2 linked regions of the Homo sapiens genome follow. The protein of the gene in region 2 purifies or fractionates together with the protein of the main gene of each other region. This does not show direct contact. Each region holds a gene or a part of one and is shown on either strand. Other genes may lie near its edges. The genes, in order: CRYGD and CEP20.

The links.
Region 1: the proteins of CEP20 (region 2) and CRYGD purify together in Homo sapiens (affinity purification with mass spectrometry; one large-scale study listed by BioGRID and IntAct). This does not show direct contact.

The regions. Positions count from the first base shown.
Region 1 is NC_000002.12:208,121,725-208,126,289, forward strand, and holds the start of CRYGD (gamma-crystallin D), read right to left. Parts: upstream 2,801-4,565; 5' UTR 2,750-2,800; coding exon 2,741-2,749; intron 2,631-2,740; coding exon 2,388-2,630; intron 222-2,387; coding exon 1-221. UniProt on the Homo sapiens protein: Crystallins are the dominant structural components of the vertebrate eye lens.
Region 2 is NC_000016.10:15,874,862-15,878,683, forward strand, and holds part of CEP20 (centrosomal protein 20), read right to left. Parts: intron 1-3,822. UniProt on the Homo sapiens protein: Involved in the biogenesis of cilia. Required for the recruitment of PLK1 to centrosomes and S phase progression.

The sequences.
Region 1 (4,565 bases), on a different chromosome or scaffold from region 2:
CCCCAGTCCTGGTAGCGCCTATAGTCCCCTGGCATCAGCAGGTACTGCCGTCCTCGGTAGTTGGACAGCTCGTAGAGGACCCAGGAGCCCTCCAGCACGTTGAGGGAGTGGATTTCATTGAAGCGGAAGCGGTCCTGAAGACAGGAGCAGTCCTCAGTGAACTCTATCATCTGGCCTCTGTAGTCCTCTCTCTCATAGAGTCTGATCCTGTGAGAGCCAGACTGGCGGACCCAGAAATAAAAAGAGAAGAAAAGCAAGTGTGAAATGATTCCAATGCATTGTTAGGCAGTCCAGCTTGGTGAGGACCCGCTCAAGCCATTTTGAAATACATGGTAAAATTTAATTAATTCTGAATATTTATAAACTCCTCATTACCGAGCACAGAGATTCAGTACCTTTTCAAGATTATGAAGTGTGGTGAAGAAATTGAGAAGGAAATCTCACTCTTTAATATATTCAGCTATTTCTTAGGATGAGCTGCCTCCTAGGCTCAGTATCCTGTACCACATGCAAATCCAAACCTGTAACAGCTTATTACTATTTTATACCATTTTGAAGAAATGTTTTAATATTAAAATAAACATTAAATTATAAAGAAATATATTTAAATAATGTATAATTTTAATATACATATGATATCTAATACATATTTAATTATATACTATATTTAAAATATATTATAAAATGTATAAAATTATATTTTATTTAAAGTTAATCATATTTTATTTTAATAATTATATTCAAATTATATTTTATAAGTATAAATTAAAATTATATTTATTTTACAAATTATATTTTATTTTAAAATAACTTTACTAAAATATAAATAAAATATATTTAAAATACAGAAATATAAGGGGTGGGGCAGTGGCTCATGCCTGTAGTCCCAGCACCCTGGGAAGCCGAGGCAGGTGGATCACTTGAGGTCAGGAGTTCAAGACCAGCCTGACGAATATGGCGAAACCTTGTCTATACTAAAAATACAAAAATTAGCCAGGTGTGGTGGCGGGTGCCTGTAATCCCAGCTACTTGGGAAGAAAATTGCTAGGGCCCAGGAAGCAGAGGTTGCAGTGTGCCGAGATCATGCCACTGCACTCCAGCGTGGGGAACAGAGCAAGACTTCGTCAAAAAAAATAATAATAATAAATAATAAAATAAAATAAAATAAAAATAAAAATACAAAAATTAGCTGGGTGTGGTGGCGTGCTCCTGTAACTCCAGCTACTCAGGAGACTGAGAGACGAGAATCATTTGAATCCAGGAGGCGGAGGTTGCAGTGAGCCGAGATTGCACCACTGCACTCCAGCCTGGGCGTCAGAGTGAGACTCTGTTTCAAAAAACAAAAACAAAACAACAACAACAAAAATATATATATACACACATATAATGTAAATGAAATATATTAAAAATATATTAAAATATATTTAAAATATGTTAAATATATTTAAAATATAATATAATTTATGTAGTTATATAAATATATTAAATACATATTTATTAAATAAATATATTATTAAATACATTATATTCATTAAATATATTTAATGTAAATATATTTAAAATATAAAAATATGTATTTTAAATATAAGTATTTAAAATATATTAAATATATCATTTAATATATTGAATTAAATGATAATGCATCATTTAAATCAATGACATAAATAAAATATGTTAAATATATAAGCCTTCTATTCAAAATATAAGTGTTTTAAATATATTAAAATATAAATATTTAAAATATATTAAAATATAAAATGTTAAATATCTTCATATATTAAAGAACAATTAATTCTAAGTCAATAACTTGTGAATGCAATGAAGAAAAATGGAGGAAGAAACATCAGTAAGTCCAAGGACGAATTTTGCATAAACTTTAGTGTTCTAACACACATATGGGATAAAAGGGACACATGTGTAAAATATGTGTGTTGCTCTCCTTTGAAGGAAAGTCTTACTTATATAGGTTGGGAAAACCCAAAATATGCAAGAGAGGAGCAAAAACGGGAAAAAGTCTCAAAAGAAATTACCCTGTTTGCTCAGTAACTGCTGTACGCTCTAGCATTTATTCTTCTATTGGGTATTAGTGGTTTTTCTACAACTCCATTCTAAATGATTCCAGAATAGGACTTAAGTCTTATACAACCCCTAGGGCAGGAGACACATTCCTACTCAATACATATTTGTGGATTAATTGTGATTAACTGGTGTCTGGGTAATACTTTGCTTATGTGGGGAGCAAACTCTATTGACTTAATCCACTATAGTTCATCTTTTGTCCACTCTCAGTTATTGTGACTGATCACTACTTCTAATGTTTAACTTTTGCTTGAAACCATCCAGTGAGTGTCCTGAGGGCCTGGGTCCTGACTTGAGGATGTACTCACGTGGGGGATGAGGCGGCAGGAGCGGACCGAGTCGCTGAGGCCCATCCACTGCTGGTGGTCGGCATAGTCGCCGCGGCGCAGGAAGTACTGGAGGCCCGAGTAGTTGGGCTGCTCATAGAGCATCCAGCAGCCGCTGTCCACGCGCGCCGAGTTGCAGCGGCTCAAGTAGGGCTGCAGGTTGGGGTGGTCGCTGCTGCATTCATAGTGGCGGCCCTGGAAGCCCCGGTCCTCGTAGAGGGTGATCTGCAAGGCAAGGCGGGACAAGGCGAGGTCTCACAGGCCTGCTCCTGCCCCAGTCTCTGGCCCCCGCGATGGAGGAAGCTCCGGGGTCCCGGGGCGCAGGCTGGGCTCACCTTCCCCATGGCTGGCTGGGCGCACGGCGGTGCTGAGCTGGTGGGGCGGCGGCGCTGAGCGGGTGGGGCTGCGGCGCGGCGGGCTATATAGCAGGAGGGCTGCTGCGTTGGCAAGAACCGCACAAAAGGGGCCCCCGGAGGGGAGCAAGGGCATTTTCGTGTTCTCTTTTTTTCTCTTTGCTGTGCTAGACCACGGGGCTTGTTGTGGGTTTTGGTCGCATTCTCTCTGGAGTATTCGGATTGCTATCACTGGCTGATGCTATTGAGAATGTTTGTAAAACGGCAATTTGGGACATTGTCTATTTATAATGGAAGTGGAGCTTCAGCTATTTCACATATAGTTCACGCTTTTATTCGTATAGATTGGGGAAAAACAAAAAAAATTTAAGTCGGGGAGCAAAAAAAGCAACGACTCTTAATAAGGCAAATATAAATTAATCTGTCAGAACTACAGTATTACTTACGTGCCACAATATTGAATACTGATTGTTAATAGGAAGGAAATGGGCTTAACTGAATGTTGAAAATTTCAAGTTAGTCCTTTAAGAGAACGTCATCATGAAAGGGTGTAAGAAATTGGAACATTTTATTAAGAGAGTTCACAGAATTTCGAACTTTTATTATGGTAAAACACACAGCAAACGTGAATCTTCAATATTGGGTCTGATTTTGTTGCAATTATGCCTGGAAGTAGCTGAGAATTAGATGTTTTTCTCTTAGCTAAAGGTGGTGCCGTGATTCAAAAGAGAGAATAGTTCTAAGATGCTTAATCTCAGAAAGAACTAAAAAGGGAAATATCTAAGTTTGAGGAAATTAGAAAAAGTAATATGTTTGAAACACAAAAACATGATCTCTTAGCTTGTTATAAAATAAAACCAAATTCCTAAGAAACTTATTTCTGGTAGGATCTAGAATACACCTTTGCCCTCTGAACGAGCGAGAGTACACAAGGCCTTTGACTCAGACGAAATTAATTGCATGAACACAAAGGGGAGCTATGGCTGGAATGATGCAGGGAGAGGAAGGAATAAAAATCTAGAAGTTGGACTCGAGGAAGACTTCAGAAAGTACTTATTGGCCTGGAAGAGAGCAGTTTGATGGACTGGGAAGAGTACTGGAGTGGAATATGACCTATGTGTCCAGCTTCTTTCATGTTCAAAGAATTGCTTACAGCCCTGTGTCAACCCATGGAAGTACTTTGTCTTGTCTTTGAGTCATAAATCTTTGTAAGTGGTATTTATGAATTAAACACCAACTATGTGCAATACAAATTATTTTAATTCTTATTTTCTGGCTGCTTTTTTTTTTTTGTATTCTTTCTATATAGAGCTCTACGGTGGTAGGGAAATACCTTTTTCTTTTGTTTTGTTTTGATTGTTTTCTTCATCCCCATTGCTACATATAGCAGGCGTATGGTAGGTGCTCAAAAATTGGTAAGGATCCTAACTCAAGGAAGTTAAGAGTCTCTAGTGGCTAATAATTGGAGGCTATTGAAATGGAAAATAAACTTGTGGCTGGGTGTGGTGGCTCACACCTGTAATCCCAGCACTTTCGGAGGCCAAGGTGGGAGGGTCACTTGAGCCCAGGAGTTCGAGACCAGCCCTGGCAACATAGTGAGACCCCTTCTCTACAAAAAAGTGAAAAAATTAGTCAGGCATGGTGGTGCGCGCCTGTAGCCCCAGCTACTTAGGAGGCTGAGATGGGAGGATCGCTTGAGCCTGTGAGGTCGAGGCTGCAGTGAGCTGGGTTTGTGCCACTGCACTCCATCCTGGACAACAGAGTGTGACCATGTCTCAAAAAATAAATAAATAAAATAAAATAAACT
Region 2 (3,822 bases):
CTCTTGGATTGCTGCCTTTGGGAGAAGTCAGATGCCTCAGGACACTTCAGCAGCCCTGGAAAGTTACATGCAGTAAGGAATTGAGGCCGCCTGTCAATATCATTATGAGTTTGGAAGCAGATAGTTCAGCCACATTCAAGGCTTCCGACTACAACCCTGGCTGGCATCTTGACTCCAACCTCAAGGGGGAGCCTGAGCTAGACTTACGTGACTAAGCCAATCCCAAATCCCCGAATATTCCACAAATAATCTATGTTGTTGTTCTAAGCTACCAAATTCTGGAATAATATCACACTAATTTTTCCATGCCACAGGGAAACCAGGAAAGTAAGTTTCTTTATTTAATAAGATGCCGCAACTCTTATGAAAGCGTCACCTAGTAATATAAAACAGGTCTCTTTGTTTACTTTAATCTTCCCCAAAGTGTTAACTGGTTCAAGATGATTTTTAAATGTTAAAAGTTTTATTTTTTAAATAAATATTCAAAAAAATGTACTTGTGATTAAAATTTTGGGTTGGACATGGGGGCTCAGGCCTGTAATCCCAGGACTTTGGGGGGCCAGCCTGGCCTCAAACAGGAGTTTGAGACAGCCTGAACAACATAGCGAGTCCCCTAGCTCTACAGCAATTTTATTTTAAATTAGCCACAGAAGGTAATATGCACCTGTGGTCCCAGCTACTTGGGAGGCTGAGGTGAGAGGATCGCTTGAGTGCAGAAGGGAGAGGCAACTTGCAAATTCATGGATTAAGGTTTATCTTTTAAAATAAGTTTCAAAAAGATAAAGAAAAGTGCGGCCTCACAATAACTTGCCTGTAATTCTGAAATGCAAAATTCTGAAAACTGGATTCTCTTCATATATCTGGCAAAAAATCATCAGATGGCAAGGGTTGACCTAACAAGGCTATTAACAAGGCTATTACAGACTTTATCTTACTTTGTGTGAAAACATTAATGTGCTGGGTGTGGTGGCTCAAGCCTGTAATCCCAGCACTTTGGGAGGCCAAGGCAGGAGGATCACCTGAGGTCGGGAGTTCAAGACCAGCCTGACCAACATGGAGAAACCCCGTATCTACTAAAAATACAAAATTAGCCGGGTGTGGTGGCATGCTCCTGTAATCCCAGCTACTCAGGAGGCTGAGGCAGAAGAGTCACTTGAACCCAAGAGGCAGAGGTTGCAGTGAGCTGAGATCATGTCATTGCACTCAAAAAAAAAAAAAAAGAGAAAGAAAATATTAATGTGATTGTGGAATACTACTTTAGGACTCCCTGGCACATACATGTAGTATTTGGTAGATGTACCATATTACTTTTTTTTTTTTTTTAAAGAATTGAAGTCTTGGGCCGATGGCTCACACCTGTAATCCTAGCACTTTGGGAGGCCGAGGCAGGAGGATCATGAGGTCAGGAGATCGAGACCATCCTGGCTAACACGGTGAAACCGTCTCTACTAAAAATACAAAAAATTAGCCAGGCGTGGTGGCATGCGTCTATAGTCCCAGCTACTTGGGAGGCTGAGGCAGGAGAATCGCTTGAACCTGGGAGGCGGCAGTTGCCGTGAGCCGAGATCACGCCACTGCACTCCAGCCTGGACGACAGAGTGAGACTCTGTCTCGAAAAAAAAAAAAAGAACTCTCGCTGTGTGGCCCACACTGGAGTGCAGCAGCAAGATCATGGCTCACTGCAGCCTCAATCTCCTGGATTTAAGTAATCTTCTTGCCTCACCCTCCTAAGTAGCTAGGACTACAGGCATGTCATTTTAAAACCCGACAGCATTTGGATTTTCAAACATGTATCTGGCCTCAGTGGTTTCAGATGCAGCACTGCAGATCTGTAAGTAAATAATATGAGTAATATGTGACTATGGCAAACTCTGTGAATGCCAATCACTGAAGTGTGAGAAACAAGGGCTTAAAGAAGTTACCTAACTTTTAAAAAATAAAGCCGTTTTAGCAACTTTTTTTTTTGCTTCCTCATCCTCTCTCAAACTTACTTTTTTTTTTTTTTTTGGAAACGGAGTCTCGCTTCTGTCGCCCAGGCTGAGTGCAGTGGCACGATCTCGGCTCACTGCAAGCTCCACCTCCCCGTTTGACGCCCATTTTCCTGCCTCGGCCTCCCAAGTAGCTGGGACTACAGGCATCCGCCACCTTGCCCGGCTAATTTTTTGTATGTTTAGCAGAGACGGGGTTTCACCGTGTTAGCCAGGATGGTCTCCATTTCCTAACCTCGTGATCTGCCCGCCTCGGCCTCCCAAAGTGCTGAGATTACAGGCGTGAGCCAATGCGCCCGGCCTTCTTTTTTAAAAAAATATCAAACATTTCACGAATTTGCGTGTCATCCCTTTGCCGGGGCCATGCTAATCTCTGTACCGCTCCAATTTTAGTTTATGTGCTGTTAAAGTGAGCACAAACTTCTTAATACTTTCATCTGAAGTAGGTATCTCAAAAGCTACCAAGAAGCCAGTAATAGTCATTGCTTATTTCCATCAACTGCTAAATGTAAAATGATGTCTTGTATTAAATGATGTAATAACTCACTGCTCATCCTAAGTCACGCTTAGATTCCCCCAATTATTTTTCCCACTGTTCTCAATTATACAATTTTTATACTTTTCAAAACACTTGTTACCAGGTGCAGTGGCTCATGCCTGTAATCCCAACACTTTGGAAGGCCAAGGTAGGTGGATAACTTGAGCTGAGGAATTGGAGACCAGCCTGGCTAACATGGTAAAACACCATTTCTAAAAAAAATACAAAAATTGGCCAGGCATGATGGTGCATGCCAGCGTATGCCTGTAATTCCAGCTACATGGGAGGCTGAGGTGGGAGAATCGCTTGAGCCCAGGAGTTCGAGGCTGCAGTGAGCCATGATCAAGCCGCTGCACTCTAGAGACCTGGGCAACAGAGTGAAACCCTGCCTTGAAAAAACAAACAAAAAAACCTCACAGCACTTTGGGAGGTGGAGGTGGGCAGATCACTTGAGGCCAGGAGTTCGAGACCGGCCTGGCCAACATGGTGAAACCCCATCTCTACAAAAAAATATGAAAAAAAATTAGCTGGGCATGGTGGTGCACACCTGTAATCCCAGCTACTCAGGAGGCTGAGGCAGAATCAGTTGAACCCAGGAGGAGATTGCGGTGAGCTGAGATGGGGCCACTGCACTCCAGCATGGGCGACAGAGCGAGACCCTATCTCACAAAAAGGAAAAAAGAAAAAAAAAAGAAACAAGGGAAGATGAGAGGAAGAGAAAGAGGAAAATGCCATAAAGGAGTTACTATCTGAACAGGGCCAACAGAAAGGAAAGATGCTCCAATAGAAGTTAAGATGCTCCAATAGAAGAGGGAGAAAGGTGATGTAGGGCTTCTAGGATAAGGGAATGGTTTACAAGGCAAAGCAGCATAAAGTTGCAAAGTGTCTTCCAGGCATAATCAGAAATCAGGTGTGAGCAGATAGAACAACAGACGGGTAGAAAGAGGTGTAAAGTGCTACGCTAAGCAACAGGGACTTCACTATACACACAATGACAAAGGTAGTATATGATCCTGGAACATTAATTTTACACAAGGATTTGTGGGAGAGTTAGATTTAACTGGAATGTCATTTAAAACATTTATATAGTAAAGCAAACAACTTTCAGAACTTTTTTTTTTTTTTTTGAGACAGGGTCTGATTCTGTCACCTAGGCTAGAGTGCAGTGGTGTGATCTTGGCTCACTGCAACCTCCGCTGCCCAGGTTAAAGCGATTCTCATGCCTGAGCCTCCCTAGCAGCTGGGACTACAGGCACACGCCACCATGCCTTGCTAATCTTTTTGTTATTTTTAGTA